7 linked regions of the Homo sapiens genome follow. The protein of the gene in region 1 purifies or fractionates together with the protein of each later gene. This does not show direct contact. Each region holds a gene or a part of one and is shown on either strand. Other genes may lie near its edges.

The links.
Region 2: the proteins of PDK4 (region 1) and CNOT10 purify together in Homo sapiens (affinity purification with mass spectrometry; one large-scale study listed by BioGRID and IntAct). This does not show direct contact.
Region 3: the proteins of PDK4 (region 1) and CNOT11 purify together in Homo sapiens (affinity purification with mass spectrometry; one large-scale study listed by BioGRID and IntAct). This does not show direct contact.
Region 4: the proteins of PDK4 (region 1) and CNOT7 purify together in Homo sapiens (affinity purification with mass spectrometry; one large-scale study listed by BioGRID and IntAct). This does not show direct contact.
Region 5: the proteins of PDK4 (region 1) and RPAP1 purify together in Homo sapiens (affinity purification with mass spectrometry; one large-scale study listed by BioGRID and IntAct). This does not show direct contact.
Region 6: the proteins of PDK4 (region 1) and GCN1 purify together in Homo sapiens (affinity purification with mass spectrometry; one large-scale study listed by BioGRID and IntAct). This does not show direct contact.
Region 7: the proteins of PDK4 (region 1) and CAD purify together in Homo sapiens (affinity purification with mass spectrometry; one large-scale study listed by BioGRID and IntAct). This does not show direct contact.

What each region holds. Positions count from the first base shown.
Region 1 is NC_000007.14:95,586,073-95,590,184, forward strand, and holds part of PDK4 (pyruvate dehydrogenase kinase, isozyme 4), read right to left. Parts: intron 3,645-4,112; coding exon 3,568-3,644; intron 1,754-3,567; coding exon 1,655-1,753; intron 1,457-1,654; coding exon 1,346-1,456; intron 1,052-1,345; coding exon 938-1,051; intron 1-937. UniProt on the Homo sapiens protein: Kinase that plays a key role in regulation of glucose and fatty acid metabolism and homeostasis via phosphorylation of the pyruvate dehydrogenase subunits PDHA1 and PDHA2.
Region 2 is NC_000003.12:32,691,233-32,695,344, forward strand, and holds part of CNOT10 (CCR4-NOT transcription complex subunit 10), read left to right. Parts: intron 1-2,931; exon of another isoform or gene 2,932-3,008; intron 3,009-4,112. UniProt on the Homo sapiens protein: Component of the CCR4-NOT complex which is one of the major cellular mRNA deadenylases and is linked to various cellular processes including bulk mRNA degradation, miRNA-mediated repression, translational repression during translational initiation and general transcription regulation.
Region 3 is NC_000002.12:101,266,386-101,269,885, forward strand, and holds part of CNOT11 (CCR4-NOT transcription complex subunit 11), read left to right. Parts: exon of another isoform or gene 1-291; coding exon 292-494; intron 495-2,654; coding exon 2,655-2,751; intron 2,752-2,830; coding exon 2,831-3,028; 3' UTR 3,029-3,500. UniProt on the Homo sapiens protein: Component of the CCR4-NOT complex which is one of the major cellular mRNA deadenylases and is linked to various cellular processes including bulk mRNA degradation, miRNA-mediated repression, translational repression during translational initiation and general transcription regulation.
Region 4 is NC_000008.11:17,233,117-17,237,228, reverse strand, and holds part of CNOT7 (CCR4-NOT transcription complex subunit 7), read left to right. Parts: coding exon 1-17; intron 18-2,368; coding exon 2,369-2,513; intron 2,514-4,112. UniProt on the Homo sapiens protein: Has 3'-5' poly(A) exoribonuclease activity for synthetic poly(A) RNA substrate. Its function seems to be partially redundant with that of CNOT8.
Region 5 is NC_000015.10:41,537,396-41,541,507, forward strand, and holds part of RPAP1 (RNA polymerase II-associated protein 1), read right to left. Parts: intron 1-4,112. UniProt on the Homo sapiens protein: Forms an interface between the RNA polymerase II enzyme and chaperone/scaffolding protein, suggesting that it is required to connect RNA polymerase II to regulators of protein complex formation.
Region 6 is NC_000012.12:120,138,857-120,142,968, reverse strand, and holds part of GCN1 (stalled ribosome sensor GCN1), read left to right. Parts: intron 1-27; coding exon 28-145; intron 146-246; coding exon 247-462; intron 463-1,945; coding exon 1,946-2,110; intron 2,111-4,112. UniProt on the Homo sapiens protein: Ribosome collision sensor that plays a key role in the RNF14-RNF25 translation quality control pathway, a pathway that takes place when a ribosome has stalled during translation, and which promotes ubiquitination and degradation of translation factors on stalled ribosomes.
Region 7 is NC_000002.12:27,223,706-27,227,817, reverse strand, and holds part of CAD (multifunctional protein CAD), read right to left. Parts: coding exon 4,070-4,112; intron 3,902-4,069; coding exon 3,789-3,901; intron 3,474-3,788; coding exon 3,328-3,473; intron 3,074-3,327; coding exon 2,942-3,073; intron 2,809-2,941; coding exon 2,575-2,808; intron 2,114-2,574; coding exon 1,892-2,113; intron 1,688-1,891; coding exon 1,499-1,687; intron 1,294-1,498; coding exon 1,169-1,293; intron 987-1,168; coding exon 856-986; intron 1-855. UniProt on the Homo sapiens protein: Multifunctional protein that encodes the first 3 enzymatic activities of the de novo pyrimidine pathway: carbamoylphosphate synthetase (CPSase; EC 6.3.5.5), aspartate transcarbamylase (ATCase; EC 2.1.3.2) and dihydroorotase (DHOase; EC 3.5.2.3).

The sequences.
Region 1 (4,112 bases):
AATGTTTTAGTTGCTAATATCTATATTTTCAGTTGAAATAGTCAGCAAATGAACAGAATCAAGACAGTGATCTTAACAAAGAAATTGAGGCTTTACCAGAAACAGGAAAATATGCACCAAGGTTTTTTTTTTTTTTTTTTGAGACGGAGTCTAGCTCTGTTGCCCAAGCTGGAGTGCAGGGGCACGATCTCAGCTCACTGCAACCTCTGCCTCCCGGGTTCAAGCAATTCTCTTGCCTCAGCCTCCCAAGTAGCTGGGGTTACAGGCACCCGCCACCACACCCAGCTAATTTTTGTATTTTTAGTAGAGACGGGGTTTCACTGTGTTGGCCAGGCTGGTCTAGAACCACTGAACTTGTGATCCACCTGCCTCGGCCTCCCAAAGTGCTGGGATTACAAGCGTGAGCCACTGTGCCCAGCCAACATGCACCAAGTTTTTAAGTTCAAACAGTGAATGTCTGGCACCCCACTGACAGCTTTGGAACAGTCAGCTTTCCTTTCCCAGGATTTCTAACAAGGTCAGCTTAAGGACTTGAGTATCTTGATACCTGTTATTTTTTCAGGCTGGAACATTATTAGCATATATTTCCCACAAATCTAAGTAAAATAAAAGCACAGCTACTCTCATAGATGCCAAAAGGAGTTGCCTTAAAAAATTCACATGAACATGTCCTCATTCTGAAACTTTGGTAATGTATTAACCTTCTTAGGAAACAATTTTGCTTCACTTGAGGCAGGTAGTATGGCCCAGCTTCCTCTTTGGTAAGTTATCATATTAAATAATGTACACACACCCAGAAAGAGAAGAGAATGAATGACCTGTAGTCATTATTTGCATTAACTCAGTTTGGGGAATTCACTCCAGACCATAGCACTCAAGGCTATAAAAGGAGCAATGGTTTTAGAAACAGGATTTTGCTATTGAATTCAAGGGATACCTTTAAGTAGATGATAGCATCTGTTCCATATCCTGATAAAGAGTAGAGATTCAGATCTCCTTGAAAGTACTTTGCATACAGACGAGAAATTGGCAAGCCGTAACCAAAACCAGCCTAGAGAAGAGAGACGTTATCAGGTAAAGAAGTGTATGTGATCACTGAAATACAAACAAGCAGGAAATTACTGTCCTCACTGATACTAATGTCCTAGAACCTAAATAAATATCTTCTACTTCCAATCAGACATCCCTTGTTTCACCATTTTTAGCTTGCTTTATCATTCATTCTTATATCCTTCATGTCTAATTTTACTTAATTGATGAACTTGTCTAAATAATCCCTTGCAATCCTTGCTCTACATTTAGAACTAGGTGGCTGAGATTAATTTAGCCATATAATTGTTCTTACCAAAGGAGCATTCCGGGAATTATCCATCACAGGCGTTGGTGCAGTGGAGTATGTATAACTAAAGAGGCGGTCAATAATTCTCAGGGGAACACCACCTCCTCTGTCTGAAATCTAAAACAAACAAACAAGTCATCAAAGCCACACATTAAAAACAATGTGCATTTGTCTAAATAAAAATGGCTTTCCTTCATTTAAAAATCACCTGGCATATATGACTGTTATCTATTGCAAAAAGCAGACAGCTTTATTACTATTGACCCTATTTAATTCTCTCAAGAGACACCCAAAAGGAAAACAGAGAATGGTTACCTTAATGGTAAGGTCTTCTTTTCCCAAGACAACAATAACCTCTATTGGTGTAAGGGAAGGCTGATTTTCCTGGTGTTCAACTGTTGCCCGCATTGCATTCTAAAACAAAGCAAACCATAAGGAATTCAATGGCAGAGGAATGAGGGACAATAAATGTTTTTTTTTTTATGTTTAAAATAAAAGTAGCACAGAGGGTAATTCAAAGTTCCTATTTTTTTAAGTTAGTAGTAAAACAGCTTTGTAAATAGCCATTTATGAATGGGTCATGTAGGATGTATAATGAAAAATATTCATTTACTATGTAATATAGCTCCTGGGAGTAATGTCTAATGGAAACCAATTCTGCTAGCTGTCAAGTTCTTATTTGTAAGCTTAATTTAAATGTAGAAATTGGTTTTTATAGTCCATTTCCTAGCTCTCCCTTTTCTATCTTTCTATTACGTTTTACATCCAAGCACCAAAGACTACTATATAACAAATGAACAGTGAAATCATTGAACCAATTTATTGGCTTTCATAAAACTTGCTGTGAAAAGGTTGTTACTATTTAAAAGGACAGTCAATAATTCTAAATTGAATTTCAATTTGCATTTGATTATCATCTAACTTTTACCAATGATGGCAGAATAACTCTATGAGTTGTATCATTCAACTTAAAAATAAATCAAATCAATGAAAAAGTATCCTTTGTCCTTTAACACAGAACAAACTAAAAGATGTTTTCCGTCTATTGGCTGAATCTCATACAGATACAGTCTTGGTTTTCTTAACCCATTTTCCTTTCTCACCACCTGTCTACTTTCTGCTTTCTGGTTTTTAAATAATATTAAGTTCTAGTCATTAGCTGTAGTGAAATAAAGTAGATCAGATGTTTGTAGTACAGTCAGTACCTCACAGCAGTAACATTAGAATAAGTTAGGAAACAGGAAGTTCTGGAAAGAGTTATGTCAGAATTAGAGGCAGATTTGTCTTTTTTAGGCTTCCTTCTCTCCAATTCAGGGGACTCTTGGGAAGCATCAAAAAGCTTAAGGTGTTTTTCTATTTTTTGGTTTAAGTTCAATTTGATCTTAATTTAACTTAATCTTAGGACGCATGAAAGGATTTGATTCTTAGCACCTGGCTGCCTCAGACCAGTAACATCTGTATCCTTTGAGAGCTTGTTAGAAATGCACATTCTCAGACCTGAAGAATCAAAATCTCTGGGGTAGAGCCCAAGAATCTGTGTTTTAACATGCCCTGCAGGCGATTCTAATGCATATTACAGTTTGAGAAGCACAACTCTACAGGCCTGCTAGGCAAAGTGTGCATTGTGGACCAGCAGCATCACCCCTTAGCTTATTCAAAATTGAGAATCTCAGGCCCCACTCTAGACTTCCTGAATCAAAATTTTCACTTTAACTAAGTCCCCAGGTGATTCATATGCACTTTAAAGTAGATGATTGAAGGAACTACTGACTGTGCTCTTAGCACATTCTGGACTCTGAATGGAGCCATACCACCTACAGGAATTCTGGACCTGAACTGCTGAGTTAGGAGTAGGACCAGCCTGTGGGGGTGGAGGTAACAAGGCCTCATTCACTGAAACATTCACCCCATGACCTCTCTTAATGAATGAATAAATGACTAGTTCTTTAATGGGCACCTGAAAAAATAATAAGAACTTCCTCTTGGCTGTAAAGCATTGATACATCATGAATTGTATGATGCATTCTCAAATATGTGTTGATGCTACAATGAGCTACATGTACTTTGTCAAACATTGACTGTATAGTTTCTTTCTCTTAGGAGGACTAGAAGCATTCTTGGGAAAAGATATTGAGGCTTCTGTTTTGTGGCGAATAATAAAGGAGATAAAAATATAACTGTTAAACCTTTTTAAAAGGTAAAATTTCAATTATTGTGAAGTATCATACCTTAAATAGTTCAAAGAGCATATGATGGAGGTGAGAAGGAACATACACGATGTGAATTGGTTGGTCTGGAAATTTTCCTAGAAAAATAAAATTCATTAAGAATTTGTAAACAAATACTTCACTAAAATAAACCACCACATTCATGTGATTAACATTTTAGACTTCAAGAGGGTTGGCATATTCTCTACCTTCCCCATCCCCAAATCCTGCCCTAGAAACTTACCACTTAAACAGTAAATATTACTGGCTTATATTCAAAATGTTGTTGTAGTTGCTACATAATGCTCTTTTGTTAATTGTTTTTTTTTTGTAGAGATAGGGTCTTACTATGTTGTCCAGGCTAGTCTTAAACTCCTGGCCTCAAGCGATCCTCCAGCCTTAGCCTCCCAAACTGCTGGGATGATAGGCATGAACCACCTTGCTCCATATGATTAATTTTTGTATTTCTCCACAAATGTGTGAAGTTGGGTAAGTGTGGAAGAACAGTGCTATAAATTAGATTTTGTGGATTATTTCTATTTTCAACATTTTTGTACTGCACAATT
Region 2 (4,112 bases), on another chromosome or scaffold:
CTCAGTGCAACCTCTGTCTCCTGGGTTCAAGTGATTCTCCTGCCTCAGCCTCCTGTGTAGCTGGGACTACAGGTGTGTGCCACCATGCCTGGCTAATTTTTTGTATTTTTAGTAGAGACGGGGTTTCACTGTGTTAGCCAGGATGGTCTCGATCTTCTGACCTCATGATCCACCCACCTCGACCTCCCAAAGTGCTGGGATTAACAGACGTGAGCCACTGTGCCTGGCCATGCCCAGCTAACTTTTGTATTTTTAGTAGAGACGTGGTTTGACCATGTTGGCCCGGCTGGTCTTGAACTCCTGAGCTTAAGTGATCTGCCCGCCTCGGCCTCCCAAAGTGCCGATGTGAGCCAACACACCTGGCTCTAGCTATGACTTTTAATGTTGAATCATTTCAAAATAGGTTATAAACATCATAACACTTCATCTCTAAATATTTCAACATGCGTTTCTTAAAAATAGGGACATTCACCTATGTAACCATGATGCCATTGTCATAGTTTAGACAATTCATGTTTTAATATATTAAAAATTTCCTGCCAGCCAGGCATGGCGCCTCACGCCTGTAATCCCAGCACTTTGGGAGTCTGAGGTGGGAGGATCAGTTGAGTTCAGGAGTTAGAGACCAGCGTAGGTAACATGGTGAAACCCTGTCTCTACCAAAAATGTAAAAAATTAGTGGTGGCGCATGCCTGTAGTCCCACCTACAAGGGAGGGTGAGGTGGGAGGATCATTTGAGCCTGGGAGGCAGAGGTTGCAGTGAGCCAAGATAAACACCACTGCACTCCAACCTGGGTGACTGAGTGAGACCCTGTCACCAAAAAAAAAAAAAAAAAGCCAATTTCCCGCCAGGCATGGTGGTTCATACCTATAAATCCTAGCACTTTGGGAGGCCGAGGTGGGTGGATTGCTTGAACCTAGGAGTTCAAGTCCAGCCTGGGCACCATGGTAAAACCCTGTCTCTACAAAAAATACAGAAAGTTAGCTGGGTGTGGTGGCATGTGCCTGTAGTCCCAGCTATGGCTATATTTTAAAAATTTATTTGTAGGCACAGGGTCCCAATATATTGCCCAGGCTGGTCTCAAACTCTTGGGCTGAAGGAATCCTCCCAGCTTGGTCTCTCAAAGTGCTGGGATTACAGGTGTAAGCCACTGCACCCAGCTTTATCTCCTGTATTTTCTTAAACTCTAACTTATTTCTACAGGCTTGATTAGATATAGGTTCAACATATTTTTGAGAAACTTTGTAGGTGATGTTATATACTTTATTTTCTGTATAAAGTACATAATGTCAGGTTATCCAGTATTAGTGATGCTAAATTTGATCAATTTGAGGTGCTGACAGGAACATCTTTTTCCATTTTCAGTTAGAGGTAATTTATGGAGTAATTGGCATTTCGTAAATATCCACTGTTGTTGATTCTTTCCTCAATCAGTTGTATTATTGAGGGTTACAAAATGATTTTTACCTAGTTCTATTGTAGTTTCTACCTTTGTTAGTGAATATTCTTCTTTAAAGAGTAGCTCTCCTGGGCTGGGTACAGTGACTCATGCCTGTAATCCCAGCACTTTGGGAGGCCAAGGTAGGCAGATCGCTTGAGCCCAGGAGTTCAAGAGCAGCCTGGGCAACATGAGAGCCTGTCTCTACGAAAAGATTGAAAAAACTTAGTTGGTGTGCTGCTGCGTGCCTGTAGTCCCAGCTACTTGGGAGGCTGAGGTAGGAGGTCACTGGAGCCCAGGAAGTCGAAGCTACAGTGAGCCGTGATCACAGCACCGCACTCTAGCCTGGGCTACAAAGTGAGACCCTGTCTCAGAAACAACAACAAAAAAGAATAGCTTTCCCATATTGACTGTTAGTCTTCCCAGAAAGCCATGTTAAATGCTAAAAGCTTAATTCATTATTTTCAATTACCAGTTTTCAGAACAAGGAGTTGATGTGGTAGTGACCTATGTTTGATATTTAAAGTGGTTTTTTTTCTTTTTTAAATTTAATTAATTTTTTTGAGGCAGGCTTTCACTCTGTTGCCCAGGCTGGAGTACAGGGGCATGATCTTGGCTCACCGCAGCCTCGACCTCCCGGATTCAAGTGATCCTCCCACCCCAACCTCCCAAGTAGCTGGGACTACAAGTACATGCCACCACACCTGGCCAGTTTTTCTGTTTTTCTGTAGAGACAGGGTTTTGCCATGTATCCCGGGCTGGTCTCAAACTCCTGGACTCAAGCAAGCCTCCTGCCTTGACTGCCCAAATTGCTGGGATTACAGGCGTGAGTAAGTGTTTTTAATATTAGAATTTAGAGTAATATATTGGTCTTTTTTTTTTTTTTTCCAGACAGGGTCTCACTCTGTCACCCAGGCTGGAGTGCAGTGGCATGAACACTGCTCACTGCATCCTTGACTTCCCAGGCTCAAGCGATCCTCCCACCTCAGCCTCCCAAGTAGCTGGGACTATAGGCATGCGCCACCACGCCTGGCTAACTTTTGTATTTTTTGTAGAGATGAGGTTTCGTCATGTTGCCCAGGCTAGTCTTGAACTCTTGAGCTCAAGCCATCCTCCCACCTTGACCTCCCAAAGTGCTGGGATTACAGGTGTGAGCCACCATGCCCGGCACTTATATTAGTCTTATGATTTCAATTTAAAATGTATAATTGACTGAATATTGATTTATACTTGTGAATTTAAATTGAAACCTTATTGCAGTTATTTTATTTTGTGGACATTAGAGAGTACCTAAGAGTCACTATAAGTTTAATTTTTTAGGTATGTAAGTTATTCTCAGGAAATTTTTTTTTCTTGACACATGTTAAAATACAAAAATTTTGTCTTTTTAAGTCTAGCAATTATACTTAAAATTGAATATATTGTTGGGGTTTGGTGGGGGGGTTGCAATAGTTCTCACTTGATAAATTTTTTTTTTTTTTAATTTAAAAAAAGTGTTTGGTACTCTACACTTTCAGAGAAACTTCTCCAGTAACAAACTGTAGAAATGATCCCTGAAAGTGTAGTCTTGGTAAAATTTTTTAAGTAGTTAACATTTTATGTTTGAAGATGTTATGTTGAAGGTGAACTTTGAAATGAGTTTAGACATTCATCACAGGCCTTTAAAATTAGACCTCCAAGTAGAATAAGTTGTCTAAGTTCGGTGTAAAAATTTGAGTAAAATCTAGGCTTTTTGAATTTGTAACTTTAATAAATTAAGTATTAATATTTTAAAACTAGAGTAAATCTCAGTCTTTTCTATGCATAAAAACTCCTCCTCTTAGATGTGAAAACAAAATACTCATCAGCAGTGGCAATATTCTGCTTTGCCTAGCTTCCTTAAAGCATGCTGATATTGTTTTTTCTTCTTTCAGTTTTTTGTTTGTTTGTTTGTTTTTTGAGGCAGTCTTGCTCTGTTGCCTAGGCTGGAGTGCAGTGGCATGATCTCGGGTCACTGCAATCTCTGCTTCCTGGGTTCAAGTGATTCTCCCGCCTCAGCCTCCTGAGTAGCTGGGATTATAGGTGCGCACCACCACGCCCAGCTAATTTTTGTATTTTTAGTAGAGATGGGGGTTTCACCATGTTGGTCGGAATGCTCTCAAACTCCCCACCTCGTGATCTGCCTGCCTTGGCCTCCCAAAGAGCTGAGATTATAGGTGTGAGTCACCGCGCCCAGCCTAACTTTTATATTTTTAGTAGAGATGGGATTTCACCATGTTGGCCAGGCTGGTCTCAAACTCCTGACCCCAGGTGATCCTCCTGCCCTGGCCTCCCAAAGTGCTGGGATTACAAGCCTGAGCCACCGTGCTGGCCATGCTGATATTATTGATTTGAATTTCTGTTCCTTTATTTCTACACTACTGGGCAGGATGCTCAATTCTGTAACATTGCTTGTTACAAATGGCTTATTCTTTGGGCTGCGAAGTGTGTGCTTTCCCATTTCTCCAGCTCCTCTTGTCCAGTGGAGGGAATATGGTTTAGTGAATAAACCATTTGAGGTTTTGGTAAGTCAAGTATACTTGTTCAGATGATAGAAATCATATGTGAGGTATGTTAACCTAGCTGTATAGTGACATTAGTGGGCCTGAATTGTTTTTCTTCGAAGTGGCATCCTTCTTAAGATTTAAAACTTTC
Region 3 (3,500 bases), on another chromosome or scaffold:
TATCTGACCAGACAGTGTGGAGTCTGGTTTGATGCCCAGGAATAGGAATCACTAGCATATTTATAAACTGTCTTAGATGTGTTTGCATTTTAGTTTGTTCAAAATTAAAATGTAAATTTAGAAATGTCAAGACATCATGGGTTTGAAGGAAGAAATTTATGAAGTTGGTTCAATGCAGATAGTTTTGTAGCTTTTTGTATAAAATGCTTATTTCATATACATGGGAAAAAAAATTGACTCAACACCCTTTCTCTCTCCCTCTCTCTCTCTTTAAAAATCTGGTGTATTTAGCTACTTGGTGAGTTGGAAAAAGACCCCAAACTTGTCTACCATATTGGCCTCACCCCAGCCAAACTTCCTGACCTTGTGGAAAACAACCCTTTAGTCGCTATAGAAATGTTGCTGAAATTAATGCAGTCAAGCCAGATCACTGAGTATTTCTCTGTCCTGGTCAATATGGACATGTCTTTACATTCAATGGAAGTTGTAAATCGGTAAGTTTCTAGATTTGATCAAATGTGTGGGGATAGATACAGATTAGATGGCCAGGAAAGAAAAATTGTAACAGATTTTTGTCTTGATATTATTGGCGTAAGATTAACTATTAAAGAAATAATGTAAGCCTTAGCATTCACTACATGTAAATTTAGCATGCGTTAATAAGAACTGAGGGTAGGATTTCAAACATATTTAGTGTTAGTAGAAGCATAAATGAAATTTAATTGCTGAAATTTATTTTATTTATTTATTTTTTTGAGAGGGAGTCTCACTCTGTTGCCCAGGCTAGAGTGCAGTGGCGTGATCTCAGCTCACTGCAACCTCCACCCGCTGGGTTCAAGCAATTCTCCTGCCTTAGCCGCCCTAGTAGCTGGCATTACAGGTGTGTGCTACCACACCCGACTAATTTTTGTATTTTTAGTAGAGACGGGGTTTCGCCATGTTGGTCAGGCGGGTCTCGAACTTCTGACCTCAAGTGATCTGCCCACCTCAGCCTCCCAAGTGCAAGGATTACAGGCATGAGCCAGTGTGCCAGCCAATTGCTGAAATTTATTTCCCTATACATAGTCCTGTCTTCTTTATCCCTATACAAATATAGATACTATTTTTTCTTAGTGACTAACAGCTGTAAGTGTGGAAAAATATGGACCTTAAGAGCTGAGAATCCTAGGAATGCTGTCCTAGCTTCCTCGTGCTCTTCTCCCAGCCTTTCTGACCCCCAGGCTCCTGACCCTGCCATCCTTGACTGTCAGGAAAACAGAACATCTTCCCTTCTTGATGTGTGCTGTACAGTGTTTGCATTTTAGAGTATTTTCCTTACAAATATCTTTTAGGTAAATTGTGAATTAGATGGGCTGGAGGGCTTAAGTTGTTTATGTGCAGGGTGGCCAGAGGTTCAGGTGTGCCTGAGAGTCCTGGTGGAGGCTTTGCATCCTGAGCTCCCTTTCACGTGGTATCCTGTTTTGGATGATAAATTATATGGTCCTCCTGTATGGGGAAATCCATTCTGAGTGCCAAGCAACTAAACTTCAGTACTGGAGAGCATAGTTTTTGAACACCTGTTTGTAAGTTGGGGCTTTTTGAAAAAATCTATGTGAAATTGAACTACAGAATGTGTCCTTTTTTCATCAACTATTGGGGGAAAAAAAGCCCAGCTGGAAGCTGAGGGAGTGGAAGTACGTGCATAGAAGGAGAGTGCGTTCTTTTAGCGGTAGCAGAGGGAGGAAATGTGAGGTTTCCAAATTAATTTTTAACTTTAACCGTGGTCACTGGCAAAACCGGCTAGCTGCTTGTTGAAAACGTGCTGCTGCACATCTCCCCCCTCTTTGTTCCAGTCTTTCCCCTACTGAGTGAAGACTCACTCTTTTCAGTGGCCCAGTTCTGTGCAGGTCCTCCGGATTGACCACGCTGAGTGTTCACTTCCCTTTCACCATATTCTTATAGCAGTTCTTGTCTCTACCAGACATTTGGCCCTGAGTCCAAGATGCAGAATCACTTACATCTTTTTATCAATGTGATTCTATCTGCTCAGTATCTTGGAATTCAAGGACAAGGTCCTGTTTGTTTTCCCCCGATACCTATCATAGTGCATCATCCTTAAACGTGAAACACGTTTTTTGGCGACGCACAAATCTCAAGAGACTGCAGCAGCTCATGACAGTGTCCTTGGAGCACTACATCCTCATGCCTTATTGAAAAAAGTTTTGAGGTCTGTTAAGTTTAGAAAAGGCAGCATATATTAATCTTCTTTTGGAAATTCATACTTTGAGTACGGAATTCCTGTTCCCACCCCACTCGTTTTTCTCATTAAAACATTCCATGTAATCCTTTGGAAAATACTGGCTTTGGCCTTTATTATGACTCTAAATTCCAATAACAGACCATGACTTAGGATTTAACCAAGAATACTCAGGGACAGGGCTCAAAAAAATAATTGCGATATGTAAATGTAAGTAGAGACATTTTAAACAGTGTTATTTATGAGTAAGTAGGTATGGCTCTTAGGTTAATTTGCCCAAGTATATTTAAAACTAGGGAATTGGATATGTCAGAAAATTCCACCAGATGACCAAAGCAAATTTTGTATTTTATGGTTAACAGTGTTTCTCAATGTTAGCAAATGAAATTAATGGGCCAAATTTTCTTTTACGAAACAGACTAACTACAGCTGTTGATCTACCTCCTGAATTTATTCACCTTTATATATCAAATTGCATCTCTACTTGTGAACAGATTAAGGATAAATATATGCAGGTAATATAAATTTTTGTAAATTTTATAAATGGCTGCCAGGAAAATGAGCAGACTAACATTTTTTTTTTTCCTTTTTCAGAATCGGTTGGTGCGTCTTGTGTGTGTGTTTCTCCAATCCTTGATCCGTAACAAAATTATTAATGTACAGGATTTGTTTATAGAAGTGCAGGCATTCTGTATTGAATTCAGTAGGATACGAGAAGCTGCTGGTCTTTTCCGGTTGTTGAAGACATTGGATACTGGGGAAACACCTTCTGAGACCAAAATGTCAAAATAATACCTCATCAGAACCATCCCATCCATTCACTGTTCAGCTGTACTGTGATTTAGTTTTTACACCGTTAAAACCCTGAGTGGATTGCTTGGTTTAATGCATATAAACAGTACTTTATCTACTTAAAGCAAAGTTTTGCTTTCTTGAATGACTTTTTCTGTGAGATGAATTTTTGATAAGAACTAGGGAAAACATGTCTTTTAGGTGTCTTGCTGATGACTATCCATAGGAGGAATGGCTATCCCAAAAAAAGTTCCGCAAAAAAGTAGATGAGTTTCTTTTTTTTTTAAGCACTAAAGAACAAAATGCATTTTTCATTAATACAGGCTTCTGATGAACCAGGAATCCTGTTTTCGTAAAGTTCCAATGTTGATGAGAGTAAATTCTTAAGCATTTGTCCTAGAGGTGAAAGCAGCTGAATGTTTCTGAACCATCAAGAGGCAAACAAACAGGAGTTTGTTTCTTGAACCTGCTT
Region 4 (4,112 bases), on another chromosome or scaffold:
TGGTTGTCATTTCATAGGTAAAACGACTACATTGAAAATGGCATTTGTTTTTCCATCTCATACTTGCTCCACACTTACTTGGGTCACTATGTTAGCAATTTCAGGTTTAATTCTGGAAAGAGTTGACTGCCATATAGAGTTGTCTCCTAACTCTTAGGAGGCTAATGTTGGTCTGCTTAAAGGTTAATTTAAAATATGGGATCCATTTTTGCCTGTGAGAAGCATGTTGCATAGTGGAAACAGTACAGGTTCTCTAAAAAGTGAAAGACCCTGGTTTAAATCCAGCGGCGCCATTTGGAATTGGTGTTACCCAGGGTTTTCTTTTACTATTTCTACACCTTAGTTTTTAATGTTCTACGGGGGAAACCATTCACTTACATTTACACAACGTTATTGAGTATTTACCATATGGCAGGCACTGAGATGAGATTCTAGGAACTAAGGTGTGAATAAAACAGATGAAAATTATTTTCCTCATGGAGTTTATATTCTCATGGGGGTGGGCAGACAGTTTTTAAAAATGGAGTTCACGTTGTGATTTGTTAGATAGTGATAAGTACTATCTCAAAACAGCAAAGAAAATGCTAGGGATGGGTGTGGAGATGGATTTTAATTTTTTTTTAAAGTGATAAGGCATCCCTTAGAAGAAATAGCTTGAAGACTTGTTTTAATGGTCACCAAAATACTTTATAAACAGTAAATTCTCAATAAGTGGTGGTTCTAAATTCTTTATTGTTATGAAACTAGATTATTTAAGAGTGTTTCTGGTAAGGAAACTATTCCGATTTTGTGAAATAGACTTCCAGGTATGAAAAAGAGTTTTCCCATCTAAGTAAACTAAACTGACGTTCCAGGGACTAAAAGTAACCTTCAGAATGATATTGGCTTTTGTTAGGTTTTGAAAAAGCATTGTGTTACATAGATGTTAATACTCTCATACTTGGTCCACTTCACACATGTATCTTAAATCTGAGTCTCCTGCATGTTTAGTTTCTGTCTCTGATCTGTGGGATGTTTATAGTGAAGGACTGTTCATGTGGGCAACTTTGATGTGTACTAACCAGAAATGGTTGAGTTGTAGGTACTGAACACACTCATTCTTACCTATCATCTTTTTTGTCTCTTCTGCACTTGAACTTGTACCTTAGGAAACATAACTTAAGACTCTTGATACAAATACCTTTTTTTTAGTCATTTTTCTTCCCTAGATATGAAGGTGCAAAAGAACTGGAAAGTATTGCCCTTCCCTTTTACTGTATATGACATACCCTTTCATTTAAAAAATACTCTGACAAAATACAGTGCACTAGGCACTGGGTATTAAGATGAACAAAAACAAACAGGGTTCATTCATGTCTTCTTGGAGTTTAGAATCTAAGTTAGACTGATATATTTGAATATTTATCAAGATAGAAGATTTTATTCCATTAAATATCATTAGTTGTTTTCCTCATATTCTAATTTCAAGTAATGAAGAATAGTTTAAGAAGTTTATAAATCCTAAGCGCTAATATAATCTTTTAATGTTAGTGAGCAAATGTCATATAGGCTTCCTGTTAGAGGTCCTTGGAAGGAAAGGTAGACAAGGGACGGACGTGTCTAAGTGGCCTGGGAGTGTAGGGAGACAGAAAGCTGTGCGAAAGGCCGGACAAAGGGAGAAGAGTTCTGGATTTGAGAGTGTAGGAGTTTGCATTTTATGATCAAGAGAGTAGTTATTTTTTTACTACCCTTCACTTCTTCCATGTGCAGCATTTCCATTAATAATGACTCTTAGGGAGCCACACTGAAAGGAAGAGAATTGTGAAGGAAGAAAAGGGAGAGACTACTTAACACAGTCATTTAAGAGAAGTGAAAATACCTTGTTACAGTCTTATTCTTTGGATAAAGTATATGACCACCTTATGTAAAAGTGGGATGACTTGCATTACTTTTGTCTACCGAATGCCAGTTCTCTTGCTACCTTTGCTAACTCTTCTGGCCAAGTTTCCATTCATCTTTATTTCTCCATTTCCATAGTTACTTTAAAAAATATTTTGAGACATCTGTGGGCAGCTTGATACTCTTCTTGGTGTTCTCTATTCAGATATCAACAAAATAGTATTTTATTGACCATAGGCTGGTTTGGTAGTGTAGGTCTGTGTTGATATCTCTGAATAATAAAGTGATAAAGTTCTTAATACTGTAAGATGACGACATTTTCTCATAGTTCTCAATATGTTTGTTTTCTCTGTTCTTGTGTGCACTTCTCTTTAATGTTTTTGGGAGGGCTCTAGTGTGACTTGCTTAAATTTGAATCAGAAAAACTTTTTTTTTTAATCTTTATAGTATTTATATGTCCCTCTTCTCTATTCTTTTAACCCTTTTATAGCGGTTACGACTTTGGCTACTTAATCAAAATCCTAACCAACTCTAACTTGCCTGAAGAAGAACTTGACTTCTTTGAGATCCTTCGATTGTTTTTTCCTGTCATTTATGATGTGAAGTACCTCATGAAGAGCTGCAAAAATCTCAAAGTAAGGCTTCGGATGGCATTATCTACAGCAGCACACTGTTCAGACCAAGTGACTGTCATGCGAGCCTAGGCTGGGATGTTGTTTTAAACCATATTTTAAAGTATTACAGTGAATGCAATTATATTATCTGGTCATGTGATTTTTTTTCTTGCATACATAATTTGTAGGGAATCCTTTTTTCAGAGCTTCAGTATGTCTTGGCAGAAGGCAGAATTTTCAACACATTTCAGGCTTAGGTCCGGTTCTTGTCACTGCTTGCCAGATTGAAAATCACAAACCAAAACACAAATCTGAGGACATTGAGGCTCTCATATGCACGCCATTGTGAGTTGTTACTTTCTCCCAAGACGCATAGAATCTGTTCTTACAAGGTGGAATCTAAGGTGGCCAGCGATATGCAGATGTATTTAGTAGTGTGGCAAAAGTTTTTCTTTCCTTTTGGCTTATCTTGGCTAGAAATTATTTTGTCAGTTCTAGTGATAGGATAATGCTCCTAGGATTAAACTATATAGCTAAAAGATTTTTCTGTGGCCAAAAGATGTCAGCTTGTTACAGTTAAGTACTATGGGAAATGTGTAGGTCCTGCCTAGATAGTAGTAACATTTTGACGCTGCATAACATGTATTTTTAAATTCTAAACATTAATTCTTTTTTTGTTTTTGAGACGGAGCCTTGCTCTTGTCGCCCAGGCTGGAGTGCAGTGGCGTGGTCTCGGCTCACTGCAACCTCCGCCTCCCGGGTTCAAGTGATTCTCCTGCCTCAGCCTCCTGTGTAGCTGGAATTAACAGGTGTCCATCACCACACCCAGCTAAATTTCGTATTTTTAGTAGAGTCGGGGTTTTACCGTGTTGGTCACGCTGGTCTTAACAGATAACTGAAGATGAGAAGCTTTCTTTTGGCCAGTGTTTACCTTTAATACATGATATGGTCAGCATATGACTAGAGAAATTTTCAAGAAAGATTATTTTATGTTTGTAGCAGTAGACTTCTGTGTAATTTGAGGGGACTTCCAGGAAGTGAACTTGCAGTAGGGTATCCCTTGCTTGAGAAATTCAGCCCACCCTGTGAAAGCACTGCATGCTGAGGCCTACATGTTTTCATCTGACTTTTTTTTTAATTGACATGTCTGTATAATGATAGTTTTCAGGAACAGGGAACCAAATTATTGCTCATCATGTGGTTGTTACTGGGAAGTTTCTAAGTACAGATATTCTGAATGTGTCCTGAGTAAGCTGCTGTGTTAAAATTCAGGTTAACGACAAAGGTGCTTTTTGACCTATAGTCAGCCATGCTGTTCTATTCAGTTCTAGTTCTGTTCTCCTAAGCAGCTGCTAACGATACCTAATCCTCGTGCTATTTTTAGCGCAGAAGCAACTGCTGTGCAAAGCCTTGTTTCAAGCTGTGATGCACAGAAGGGCCATTTTGCCGGTGGAGGCCTTAACAAGTTAGAGAAGAATTTTTGTTTTGTTGTTGGTGTTTCTTTCCTTCACGCTCTACTTATTCTCCCCTCCCTTTACTCTCCTTGCCTGTCCTCCCACTTTCTTTCCTTCTGTTACTGTCTTTCTCTTTCTTTCTTTCCACTCTTTCCACTCTCATCTT
Region 5 (4,112 bases), on another chromosome or scaffold:
TGTTTACAATCTATAGGTGATAAAACTCTCAGGAACAACCAGCAGGAGACCTGAGGAAAATGTCATCAGGGGCCGAGCAGATAAATGTTGTCATAATGGGGGGGTGATGATTCTGTATCAAACTGGAGAGAACATGCTTGGCCTAAAGGTATGTAAATTATTAAAAACCTTGGGCTGTAAAATATCAATATAAAAAACATTTGTGGCCAGGCGCAGTGGCTCACGCCCGTAATCCCAGCATTTTGTAAGGCCGAGGAGGGTGGGTCACCTGAGGCCAGGAGTTCAAGACCAGCCTGGCCAACATGGTGAAACCCCATCTCTACTAAAAATACAAAAAATTAGCTGGGCATTGTGGTGGGCGCCTGTAATCCCAGCTACCTGGGAGGCTGAGACAGGAGAATCGCTTGAACCTGGGAGATGGAGGTTGCTGTGAGCCGAGATTGCACCATTGCACTCCAGCCTGGGCAACAAGAGTAAAACTCCGTCTCAAAAAAAAAAAAAAAAATTGTATGTCTATGCACTAGCAAAGAACATGCAGAAAATGGAATTAAGAAAACAATTGCATTGGCCGGATGCGGTGGCTCACGCCTGTAATCCCAGCACTTTGGGAGGCCAAGGCGTGTGGATTATGAGGTCAGGAGATCAAGACCATCCTGGTTAACACGGTGAAACCCCGTCTCTACTAAAAATATAAAAAACTAGCCGGGCGTGGTGGCGGGCACCTGTATTCCCAGCTACTCGGGAGGCTGAGGCAGGAGAATGGCGTGAACCCGGGAGGCGGAGCTTGCAGTGATCTGAGATGGAGCCACTGCACTCCAGCTTGGGCGACAGAGTGAGACTCTGTCAAAAAAACAAAACAAAACAAAACAAAAAACAGACAGGATCTCACTCTGTCACCTAGGTTGGAGTGCAGTCTGCTATCATAGCTTACTACAGCCTCAAACTCCTGGGCTTGGGTGATCCTCCCACTTGACACAGAAAGTTAATTTAATTGCCCCAAATCCACAGTAAATGTCAGAAACAGAATCTCAAGTTAGGCACTCAAGCTGCAGAATGTATGCACTTCTCTGTCTGCTCAACCTTGACAATGATAAGTGATCAGAGGCTTAGAGGATAAAAAAGGAAAGAAAAAACAAAAAAAATCAACAAACAGGTCAGCAATCAAATGTTTTGTATCATGATAAAATATGCATATTTCTATTTTTCTCTATATACTGTAAATTTATGTACTTTTTAAACTTGTGATTTGTTATAATGTTAGATTTACAGATTTATATAGATAGTATGAACAGTTTCCATATGTAGTCTTCACCCAGTTTCTCCAAAGGTTAAGACTTTACGTAACCATGGCACAAAGGCAAAAAAGAAATTAACATAGAGACCTTACATTTATTTGTCAACAAAAAGGAATGAAGTTCCAATGCACAAACATTGAAAACATTATACTAAGTGAAAGAAGCTATATGACTCAGAAACATTTTATTTAGTGAAAAGAAAGAAAGAAGCTAGCCAAAAAGGACCTCATATTGTATGATTCTGTTCATATGGAATGTCCAAAATAGGCAAATCCATAGAGACAGAAAGTAGATTAGTAGTTGCCAGGGGCTAGGAGAGCTGGAGGGAAATGGGAATTGACAGCTAATGGGTATGGAGCGTCTTTTTGGAGTAATGAAAATGTTCAACCTTGTGAATATACTAAAAGCCATGAATTGTAAACTTTATTAATTTATTGTGACAGAGTCTGGCTCTGTCACCCAGGCTGGAGTGCAGTAGCGTGATCTTGGCTCACTGCAACCTCTACCTCCTGGGCTTAAGCCGTCCTCCCACCTCAGTCTCCCAAAAAGCTAGGACTACAGATGCACCACCACACTCAGCTAATTTTTGTTTTTTTTTTTGTTTTTTGTTTTTTGTTTTTTGAGACGGAGTTTTGCTCTTGTTGCCCAGGCTGGCGTGCAATGGCGCGATCTCGGCTCACTGCAACCTCTGACTCCTAGGTTCAAGTGATTCTCCTGCCTCAGCCTCCTGAGTAGCTGGGATTACAGGCGCCCACCACCATGCCTGGCTAATTTTTTGTAGTTTTTCAGTAGAGACAGGGTTTCACCATGTTGGTCAGGCTGATCTCGAACTCCTGACCTCATGATCCACCTGCCTTGGCCTCCCAAAGTGCTGGGATTACAGGCGTGAGCCACCGTGCCCCACAATTTTTGTGTTTTTTACAGAGACAGGATTTCACCATGTTGTACAGGCTGGTCTCGATCTCCTGGGCTCAAGAAATCTGCCCACCTTGGGCTCCCAAAGTACTGGGATTACAGGCCTGAGCTACTGCACCTGGCCTGTAAACTTTTAAAATGATGAATTCTGGCCAGGCTCGGTGGCTCACATCAGTAATCCCAGCACTTTGGGAGGCTGAGACAGGTGGCTCACGAGGTCAGGAGTTCAAACCAGCCTGACCAACATGGTGAAGTCTCTACTAAAAATACAAAAAAAATTAGCCGGGTGTGGTGGCAGGTGCCTGTAATCCTAGCTACTCAGGAGGCTGAGGCAGAAGAATCACTTGAACCTGGGAGGCGGAGGCTGCAGTGAGCCAAGATCGTACCACTGCACTCCAGCCTGGGCGACAGAGTGAGACTCCGTCTCAAAAAAATAATAATAATAAAATAAAATGATGACTTCTGTGGTATATAAACTATAAATCAATTATAAAACAAAAAACGCTGGGCTGGCCAAAGATATCTGCAAGCTGGCTGGCTAGTTTTGGAACCCCTGAGCTAGATGCTGATAATAATAAAAATATTGTTATATCTAACACTTATTGAGCACTTAGTATGCACCACATACTGTTCTCTAAGCACTTTTTCCATATTCATTCATTTAATCCTCATAACAGCCTAGGAGGTAGGTTACTACTATTTTTTTTTTTTTTGAGATGGAGTTTCACTCTTGTTGCCCAGGCTGGAGTGCAATGGCACGATCTCGGCTCACTGCAACCTCCGCCTCCCAGGTTCAAGCGATTCTCCTGCCTCAGTCTCCCTAGTAGCTGGGATTATAGGCATGTGCCACCACGCCCAGCTAATTTTGTATTTTTAGTAGAGACTGGGTTTCTCCATGTTGGTCAGGCTGGTCTCGAACTCCCGACCTCAGGTGATCTGCCCGCCTCTGCCTCCCAAAGTGCTGGGATTACAGGCGTGAGCCACTGCAACGGGCCAGTTACTACTATTATTCAAATTTTACAGCTGAGAAAAGAATAGTGCTGAGAAGTTAAGTATTTGCTCAAGGTCTCAGTGTAAGTGTGTGCTAGGATTAGGATTCAATCCCAGTCAGTCCATGCTCTTACCCACTATGTTCTACTGCCTACTGCTGTGTGGTGCCTGGGTGTCCTGGAAGTCTGGAATAGTGAGGCAGATGGGGAAGAACTATAAAGAATCTCCTGAAGAGCAAAGGCTGCAACTACACTAAGGTTTCTCAATAGGGACTATTGATCTTTATAGCTGGGTAATTCTTTGCTGTGGGAAGCTGTCCTGCGCACTGTAGGATGTTTAGCGGCATTCCTGGCTTTTACCCACTAGACGTCATCATCAAACCTCCTCCCCTAGTTGTGACAAGTAAAAATGTCTGCAGACATTGCCAAATGTCACCTCAGAAAAAAATCACCCCCAGTTGAAAACCACTGAACCAGACCTTGAAGGATAAGATAGGCCTCCAGCCAGAAGGGAGAGCTGGGCAAAGGTATAGAAGCAGGGAATAGGGCCGGGCGCAGTGGCTCACACCTGTAATCCCAGCACTTTGAGGCTGAGGTGGGTGGATCATCTGAGGTCAGGAGTTCAAGACCAGCTTGGCCAACATGGTGAAACCCCATCTCTACTAAAAATACAAAAAAATTAGGCAGGCGTGGTGGCATGTGCCTGTACTCCCAGCTACTTGGGAGGCTGAGGCAGGAGAACGGTTTGAACCCAGGAGGTGGAGGTTGCAGTGAGCCAAGATTACACCACTGCCCTCCAGCTTGGGTGACAGAGCTAGACTCCATCTTGAAAAAAAAAAAAAAAAAAGCAGGGAATAAATATGGTACATGGGAGAACATGATGAAGTTGACCACCTCCTAAAAGTTGAAGGAG
Region 6 (4,112 bases), on another chromosome or scaffold:
TGACTGTGTTGTTGGCCTCCTTCTCAGGTTCAGCTCTGTTCAGCTCCTTGGGGATCTCCTGTTTCACATCTCAGGAGTCACTGGGAAGATGACCACAGAAACTGCCTCTGAGGATGATAACTTTGGAACTGCCCAGTCCAACAAGGTGCCTGCAGTGGCTTTCCTGCCCCTGCTGATGGTAGGGTGTGCCCTGATGCCCATGCCATAGAGGCTTCACTACTCTCTGTCCCCTTCTACTGGCTGCAGGCGATCATCACTGCCCTGGGGGTAGAGCGGCGGAACCGGGTGTTGGCAGGGCTGTACATGGGCCGCTCAGACACCCAGCTGGTGGTGCGGCAGGCGTCCCTGCATGTCTGGAAGATTGTTGTCTCCAATACCCCCCGCACCTTGCGTGAGATCCTACCCACTCTCTTTGGGCTCCTGCTGGGTTTCCTGGCCAGCACGTGTGCAGATAAGAGAACGGTGAGTTTCCTGGGCCTTGTTTTGGACCAGCAGCCCCAGTGCCTCCTTTCAGAGCCTAGAAGGCTGGGTCTGCAGAGCCTGGGAAAGTACCCATCCACCCTGCCTAACAGAGGGACATTGTGTTCTTTACTTAGTCATTCTGCAAATATTTTTTGATTAATTTTATTTTATTTATTTTTTTGAGGTGGAGTCTTGCTCTGTCGCCCAGGCTGAAGTGCAGTGGCGTGATCTCAGCTCACTGCAAGCTCCGCCTCCTAGGTTCATGCCATTCTCCTGCCTCAGCCTCCCGAGTAGCTGGGACTACAGGCATCCACCACCACACCTGGCCATTTTTTTATATTTTTAGTAGAGACGGGGTTTCAGCACGTTAGCCAGGACGGTCTCGATCTCCTGACCTCGTGATGCGCCCGTCTCGGCCTCCCAAAGTGCTGGGATTACAGGCTTGAGCCACCACGCCTGGCCTCTGCAAATATTTATTAGCATCTCCTGTGCACTAAGCAGGGGCCTAGCACCTGGGGACACAATGGAGAAGAAAGGCAGCTTCATTCCTTATCCTCATGAGAGGTAGTCTAGTCGAGGAGATGGATATTAATCAAATAACCACACAAAGAGATGTAAAATGCGACTGTGGCCAGTGCTGCATGGCACTGCAAATGCTTATAATAGCTGCATTTGACCTGCTGGGGAGGGATGGGCCTGTGTTAGTGAACACTTCTCAGAAGAAATGATGCTGGAAGATGAAAGATAAGTAAGCACTAACCAGGTGAGGAGGTGGCGAAAGACCATTCCAGACAGAGGGAATAAATAATGTTTCAGATACAAAGACAGGATATGCAGAGGTCCCGTGGTGGGCAGGAACATAGCACCAGTAGGGGCTGAGCAAGGCCAGTGTGGCTGGAGTGAGGAGGCAGGGAGGAGCAGTGCGGCATGAGATCAGGCTGGCGCGCTGGCAGGGGCAGACAGATCAGTGGGCCTGGAGGAGGTGCCCAGATGGGCTGGTGATCATTTCTGCCCATCTCCTTTGGTCTACTTCCAACCCCCCATCCTTGGCAAGCAAATTGTGTATTTGGCTCTAAAGAAGGGTTTGCATGAGGTCTCAGAAAGTAGATGTTTTTTTTTCCTTAAAGCTTTGTTCCAGATTCGGCTCCTGCTCAGCCATAGCACAGTGTTAAGGCTTCAGTCATCCAGGGAAATTGGCCCTTGACTGTGCAGCAGATGATGAATTTTTTGTACATGTGTAAGGTGCTGCTGGCTCTTAATGTTAGGTTGTGTAGGTGTGTGTGAAACAGATAATTTTTTGGTAGTGTTTTGCAAGCACTACAGAGAGTATTTGGGGGCTCTTTAGGGGTAAGAGCATTTGGGGAAGTTAAGTCAGTGATTCAGATAAAGCCTGGGAGGTTTCAGGGCCCTCATTCTGGAGTCCTCCTCTGGGTGCCCTGGGCTTTGCAGGGACTTTACTTCCTGGATTGGTCTCTGTTGACAGATTGCAGCGAGAACATTGGGAGATCTTGTGCGGAAGTTAGGGGAGAAAATCCTCCCCGAGATCATCCCCATCCTTGAGGAAGGCCTGAGGTCTCAGAAGAGCGATGAGAGGCAGGGTGTGTGCATTGGCCTAAGTGAGATCATGAAGTCCACCAGCCGGGATGCCGTGAGTATCTTCCAAGGATCCCGCCAGCTGTGCACTGCAGACGACCTGACTCAGAGGGCGGGGGAGGGCTACTGAAGGAGGTTCACCTCTAGGGGGTTTGTGCTGCCCTCAGGGATGAGCCAGTCTCACTCTGGGGAGGTGCTGGCTGGGCCACATGGACTTGAGGCTCCGTCTTCTCAGCTTTCCTGTCAGTTTTGCAGGCTAAGAGCTAAGTGATTTGGATGCCTCCTTGAGTGGCCTTTGGAAACTGGAGATGATCGCTCTCTTACAACTGTGGAGGTTGCTCAGGATCAGTCTCTTTTGTGATGCTATATAAGTCCAGTTAAAATGTGTGCACCTCCTTCTGGGAAAGGGGATGGACAGCTGTGTGAGTGGGTAGGGCAGGAGGGTGCGGGAGGGGGTGTGCACTCACCCTTAGCAGGAGGGGAGCAGGTAAGAGTTGTGGTGCCAGGTGGGAGGAAGCATATTGCGTCTGGCAACAATACTGTTTCCATAGCAGCAACGTTCAAGGGGTGTGAAGTCCATTACTCTTACTTGGTTCCTGAGTTAAATGATCCTGGAGACCACCCTGGGGAGTAGGTTAGGAGTGCTTTTAGGCACTGCCTTCGTGTTTGGATGAAAACGCCAAAGCAATTAAGTGGATGGCCCGCTAGAAATGTAAGCAAGTGGCCAGTTGCTTGGCTTGGGCATCCTTGTCTGAATTCCTAGGATACCAGATCCCTCTTCTCCTATATTGATGTTTGTCTTACGTTTGGTTTTTAAAATTTACATTTGGCAAGGAATCAAAAGAAATTCTGTCATCAGAAAGAGTTGTGATTCATTGGAGAGGTAGAGTTCCACAGAGGCTGAGTTCTTGTCTGCAAAGTCCCCACAGTCCAATGGCAAGGCCCACATGCCAACCAGTCATTAGAATGCAGAGTGGGCTTTGCTGTGCTGGGATCGTTACTGAGGGAGCAGAGCCATTATTGGCTCCATTGTAGACCCAAAGACTTCATAGAGCACAAAGTCTGGATTGAGACTTGAAGAAGGACTTGGAGTTTTCCAAGAGAATAAGCAAAAGAAAGAGTCCAGGGAGAGAGGGGGCCAGATGCCATGGGAAGGAGTTTGCAGTTCTTAGAGAAGATGGGAGGTATATTGAGAATTCACCTAAAAGATTCAAGCTGTTGATTATTAAGTCTCAGTGAAGGATACATGGGGGTGCATCACATCCTCTCTGCTTTTTTTTTTTATTGAGACGGGGTCTTACTCTGTCACCCAGGCTGGAGTGCAGTGGTGCGATCATAGCTCATTGTAACCTTGACCTTCTGGGCTCAAGTGATCCTCTCGCTATGGCCTCCTGAGTAGCTGGGGACTATAGGTGTGCACCACCACACGTAGCTAATTTTTGCATTTTTAGTAGAGGTGAGGTCTCACTATGTTGCCCAGGCTGGTCTCAAACTCCTGGCCTCAAGTGATTCTCTTGCCTCCACCTCCCAAAGTGTTGGGATTACAGGCGTGAGCCACTGTGCGCGGCCCCTCTCTACTTTTTAATTTTTTTAAAATTTTTAGTTTAAGACAATCTCACTCTGCTGCCCAGGCAGGAGTACAGGGGCACCATCTCTTTTGGCTACAGCCTCTGCTTCCTGGGTTCAAGCGATTCTTGTGCCTCAGCCTCCTGTGTAGCTGGGATTACAGGTGTGCACCACCACACCCAGCTAATTTTTGTATTTTTAGTAGAGATAGGGTTTTGCCATGTTGACCAGGCTGGTCTCGAACTCCTGGCCTCAAGTCATCCGCCCACCTTGGCCTCCCAAAGTGCTGGGATTACAGGTGTGAGCCACCGTGCCCGGCCCCTTCTCTCCTTTTTTTTATTTCACAGTAAAGAGTTAAGTTAAAAGACAAGTCAGGCAAAGAGAGTTAGGGTGGCCTAGCTGGGTCAGAGTCCCCTGCCTGTGCTTCTTGTCTGCTTCTGCTCCTTCTTTGCCTTTCCTGCATCTGGTACAGTTGTAGCTTGCCATTGCAG
Region 7 (4,112 bases), on another chromosome or scaffold:
TTCATGTTTCTTACTTGTATAATAAAAGTTACAAAAAGTTACCAAAGAAGACCACATTCCAAGAATACTTGAACAGATGTAAAACAATTAAATGTCTCATCTAGGAACCAATCTTTCATTGGCCTATTTTCAATCCACTTCTTTTTGCCACAATTTAATTATGGCTTCATTCCCATGTTTATTCTAATTTTCATATAACAGAGATTCATCTCCAGAAGGAAAAAATTGGCAGTCTTGCAGAATTTCTAAAAATTCTGAAATAATATCTGAGCTTAGACTTACTTGTTTAAAGGCCACTACTGCTCTAAATGGAAATCTGGAGCACCACAAAATGCTCTTATCCATCAGGCTGGTGGCGCTGTGTCTGGTACACGTATATTTTTGTTTTGGTTGAAATGTGTTAGAGGACGGTCTTCGGCAACTAAAGGGATACCACAAAGAAACATACTAACTCAATTCTAACATGCTCTGCCACTGCTGGGTAACGTTACGGCCATTCATCATTCACTAATAAATTTCCTTGTTACCAAAAAGGTTTATGATGCCCTGCTCTGATGTAAACATCATACTAAAAAAAAAGGTCATTTAGTGACCAAAGCACAAAGTGCCAGAGGAGGAGATACTGCAAAAATGAGATGAGATAGTCTGATGGCTTGCACCTATCCCAGAGATTCTGTATTCCAACACAGATTTCCAGATGCCTCCCCAACTCCTGACAAGGACTATAATCTTAGTTTGAAATGTCTCAAGCACCTGCTCCCATAGGACGTAAAAGGCCATGCCAGGGAACTCTTGACATTTAAGATTCTTGGTCATGGTGGGGCCCCATGGGGGTGCCCAGGGCATGAGTCTCACCAACGCTCTTCATGCAGCTCCCAATCTTTGTGCTGACTCGCAGGAACTTGCTAAGGTCCCATCGAGGAATCTTCACCACACAATAATCCACGCTGGGTTCAAAGGCTGCTGTACCCCCTGTCACAGAGTTCCTGGGGTCCAGCAGGTGGGATGCCAGAAGGACAGTGAAGGAAGCATAAAGGGTGAGCTTCCGGATAGCTCTTTCCATTCCCACAAATCCAGGCCAATGTCCTTTTCATATTCCCTGTCCCATCAATATTTTCCTCAGCCCCCGACCCACTTCCCCACTGTGATATCTCCCTCATCCTCGTACCTGAGCTCAGGCAAAGGGATGCCCAATGCTAGCTTGGCTGCCACATAAGCCAGTGGATAACCTGTGGCCTTACTGGCCAGGGCAGAGCTGCGAGAGAGCCTGGCATTCACTTCAATGATGTAATACTGCAAAGAAGGAGAATAAAGTCACTGGCCTAGAAGACCCTGTCTAGGAGAGGTCTCAGAAAGGAGAGAAAAGTAACCTAGTAAAGAAGATTCCAGCTTGTACTCCAGGGACTGTAAGCCCAAAAGACCTCAACCTCAAGGGCCAAAAATTATACAAGAAGAGGGGGTAACAACTAGACTATCAGTTCCAGGGCCTAGAGCTTACCTGCTCAGACTCAGGGTTCAAGGCATACTGCACATTGCACTCCCCAACAATTCCCAGGTGCTGGGTCACCTTGATAGCTGTCTGCCTCAGGAGCTGATACTCCCTGTCATTCAGTGTCTGGCTAGGGGCCACCACTATGGACTCACCAGTGTGGATGCCCAGTGGGTCCAAGTTCTCCATGTTACACACCTGTGAAGGGGGGTGCCATGGAGGTCACTGCCAAGCAGAGTCAGGAGAGGCAGAAGGCTGCACCCCAGGGTCCTGTTACCTCTGGGGCTGCACCTAACCTGGGTCTGAGGGACATACAACTCTCAAAGACCTTGGCCTGGGCCTCTGCTCTTCCAAAAGCTCATCCTGCCTGACACGACGCCCACCCTTCCCCCATTCACTCACCGTGACACAGTTGCCATAGGCGTCTCTCACCACCTCGTACTCAATCTCCTTCCATCCCTTCAGAGACTTGTCTACTAGCACTTGGCTGGTATGGGCAAAAGCTGGGGCCACGAGAGCAGAGAGCTCCTCCCTGTTAGAGGCAAAGCCAGAGCCCAGGCCACCCAGGGCAAAGGCTGCACGCACTAGCACAGGGTACCCCAGCCGTTCAGCGGCTGCCTGGGCCTGCAATGAGTGGAAGAGATGAACAAACAGGTTATTTCCTACTGTCCAAGGTGTGCCTGTCCCACATAAAAAAAGATATAAAGAAAATAACATGGCTGGGCATAGTGGCTCACGCCTGTAACCCCAGCAATTTGGGAGGCCGAGGGTCGGGGGGGTGGATCACCTGAGGTCAGGAGTTCGAGATCAGCCTGACCAACATGGAGAAACCCCGTCTCTACTAAAAATACAAAATTAGCTGGGCATGGTGGCGCATGCCAGTAATCCCAGCTACTCAGGAAGCTGAGGCAGGAGAGTCGCTTGAATCTGGGAGGTGGAGGTTATGATGAGCCGAGATCACGCCACTGTACTCCAGCCTGCGCAACAAGAGCGAAACTCCGTCTCAAAAAAAAAAAAAAAAAAAAGAAAATAACACTACCAAAAAAAACACCACCATTCTTCCTTTACCCAAACACCCCTCCAACCTGTTCAAGAGAATTTGCTGCCTCGCTCGGGGCCACATGCTCTCCGATCTCTGCCATTCTGGCAGCAAAGGCCCGTCGATCCTCGGTCAGCTCAATGGTCTCCACTGGTGTGCCCAGGACCCGGACCCCATACCGAGCCAGCACCCCGGCCTTGGTCAGCTCCACACCACAGTTCAGAGCAGTCTGGCCCCCAAAAGTCAGTAACACACCATCGGGGCGTTCATTACGTATCACCTGAGGATGGAGAGGGGAGTTACAGGCATCAGAACCTTGTGGGTAGAGAGGCAATCAAAGTTTAATAACCCACAGTGACCACTGGGCCCCCCTGCCCAGTCCTCTTTTCATTCCAGCCTTGCCCCAGTCATACCTGGGTTACATAATGAGGTGTTATGGGAAGAAAATAGACCTTGTCGGCCAGCCCCTGGGAGGTCTGCACTGTGGCAATATTGGGGTTGATCAGCAACGTCTGGATGTTTTCCTCCTTCAGGGCCTTAATTGCCTAAAAGGACAAGAATGGCATCTCAGCCTCTGCTGAAGAAGCAAAATTGCAAACAGCCTTAGAGTAGCATTCTCCTCTTCTTTCCCTCCCTGTACTCTTGGCCCCTAATAATTGACTTCTATTTCTTACTACATCTTTCTCTACATTCCCCAAATCTGGTTCATTTCCTCCCTGCAACCTTAGCCCTTCTCCTTAAGACCCTTTCCATTCTTGAGGGTCACACGCCCAGAAGGGTGGGGAGGAACATGCCTCACCTGAGAGCCCGAGTAGTCAAATTCTCCAGCTTGGCCAATGGAGAGGCCCCCTGAGCCCAGGATCAGAACCTTTCGTGGTGGTGGAAGTCCAGAGCCGGGAGTGGGAATCCCAGGGGGACAGAGGCGCTCAGTCAGCCGCTCTCTAACTGTGGAAGCAAAGAAGGTCGTAGAATGTTAGAGCTGAGCTGGACCCAAGAGGTCAACTGGATTAGCTCCCTCGCTTTCAGAAGAGTCCAGAGCAAATTATGCACCTCAGGAGGAGCAGAGGGAGGACCAGAACCCAGGACCCTGGAGTTCCTTTCAACAGAAGCTTAAACGGTATCTTGGGTTGGTTGCCACCCATCCCCAATACCCTTAACCTCCTAGACATCTAGGAGTTGCCCAGGGCATGTCCACCTTATGCCCATCCTGGAGCCAACCCTGTTCTTAGGTCCACAACCCAGTTCTACTCAGGATCTTACCTGTCTGGCCCCCAGGGTTCCCAGCTGTGGCCTCTTTCACAGTTTCCAGAAAGATATCGAAAAGCAGTTCCATATCTGAAGGGCCAGCTTGGTGCTCTGGGTGAAACTGGACACTATTGAAGAGATTGCATCATGAAAACCATCATGGTCCCTGGCATGACACTGGCAGCCTCGAGGTGGGTAGTGGGACAGGGGACTCGGATCCACTGCCGTGCTTTACTTTTCCATCATCAAGGCCCACAGGGCTTCAAATTTTCACAGACCCAGTCAACCAGGCTCACCTGAAGAAAGGCAAGCTGTTGTGCACAATGCCTTCATTGGAAC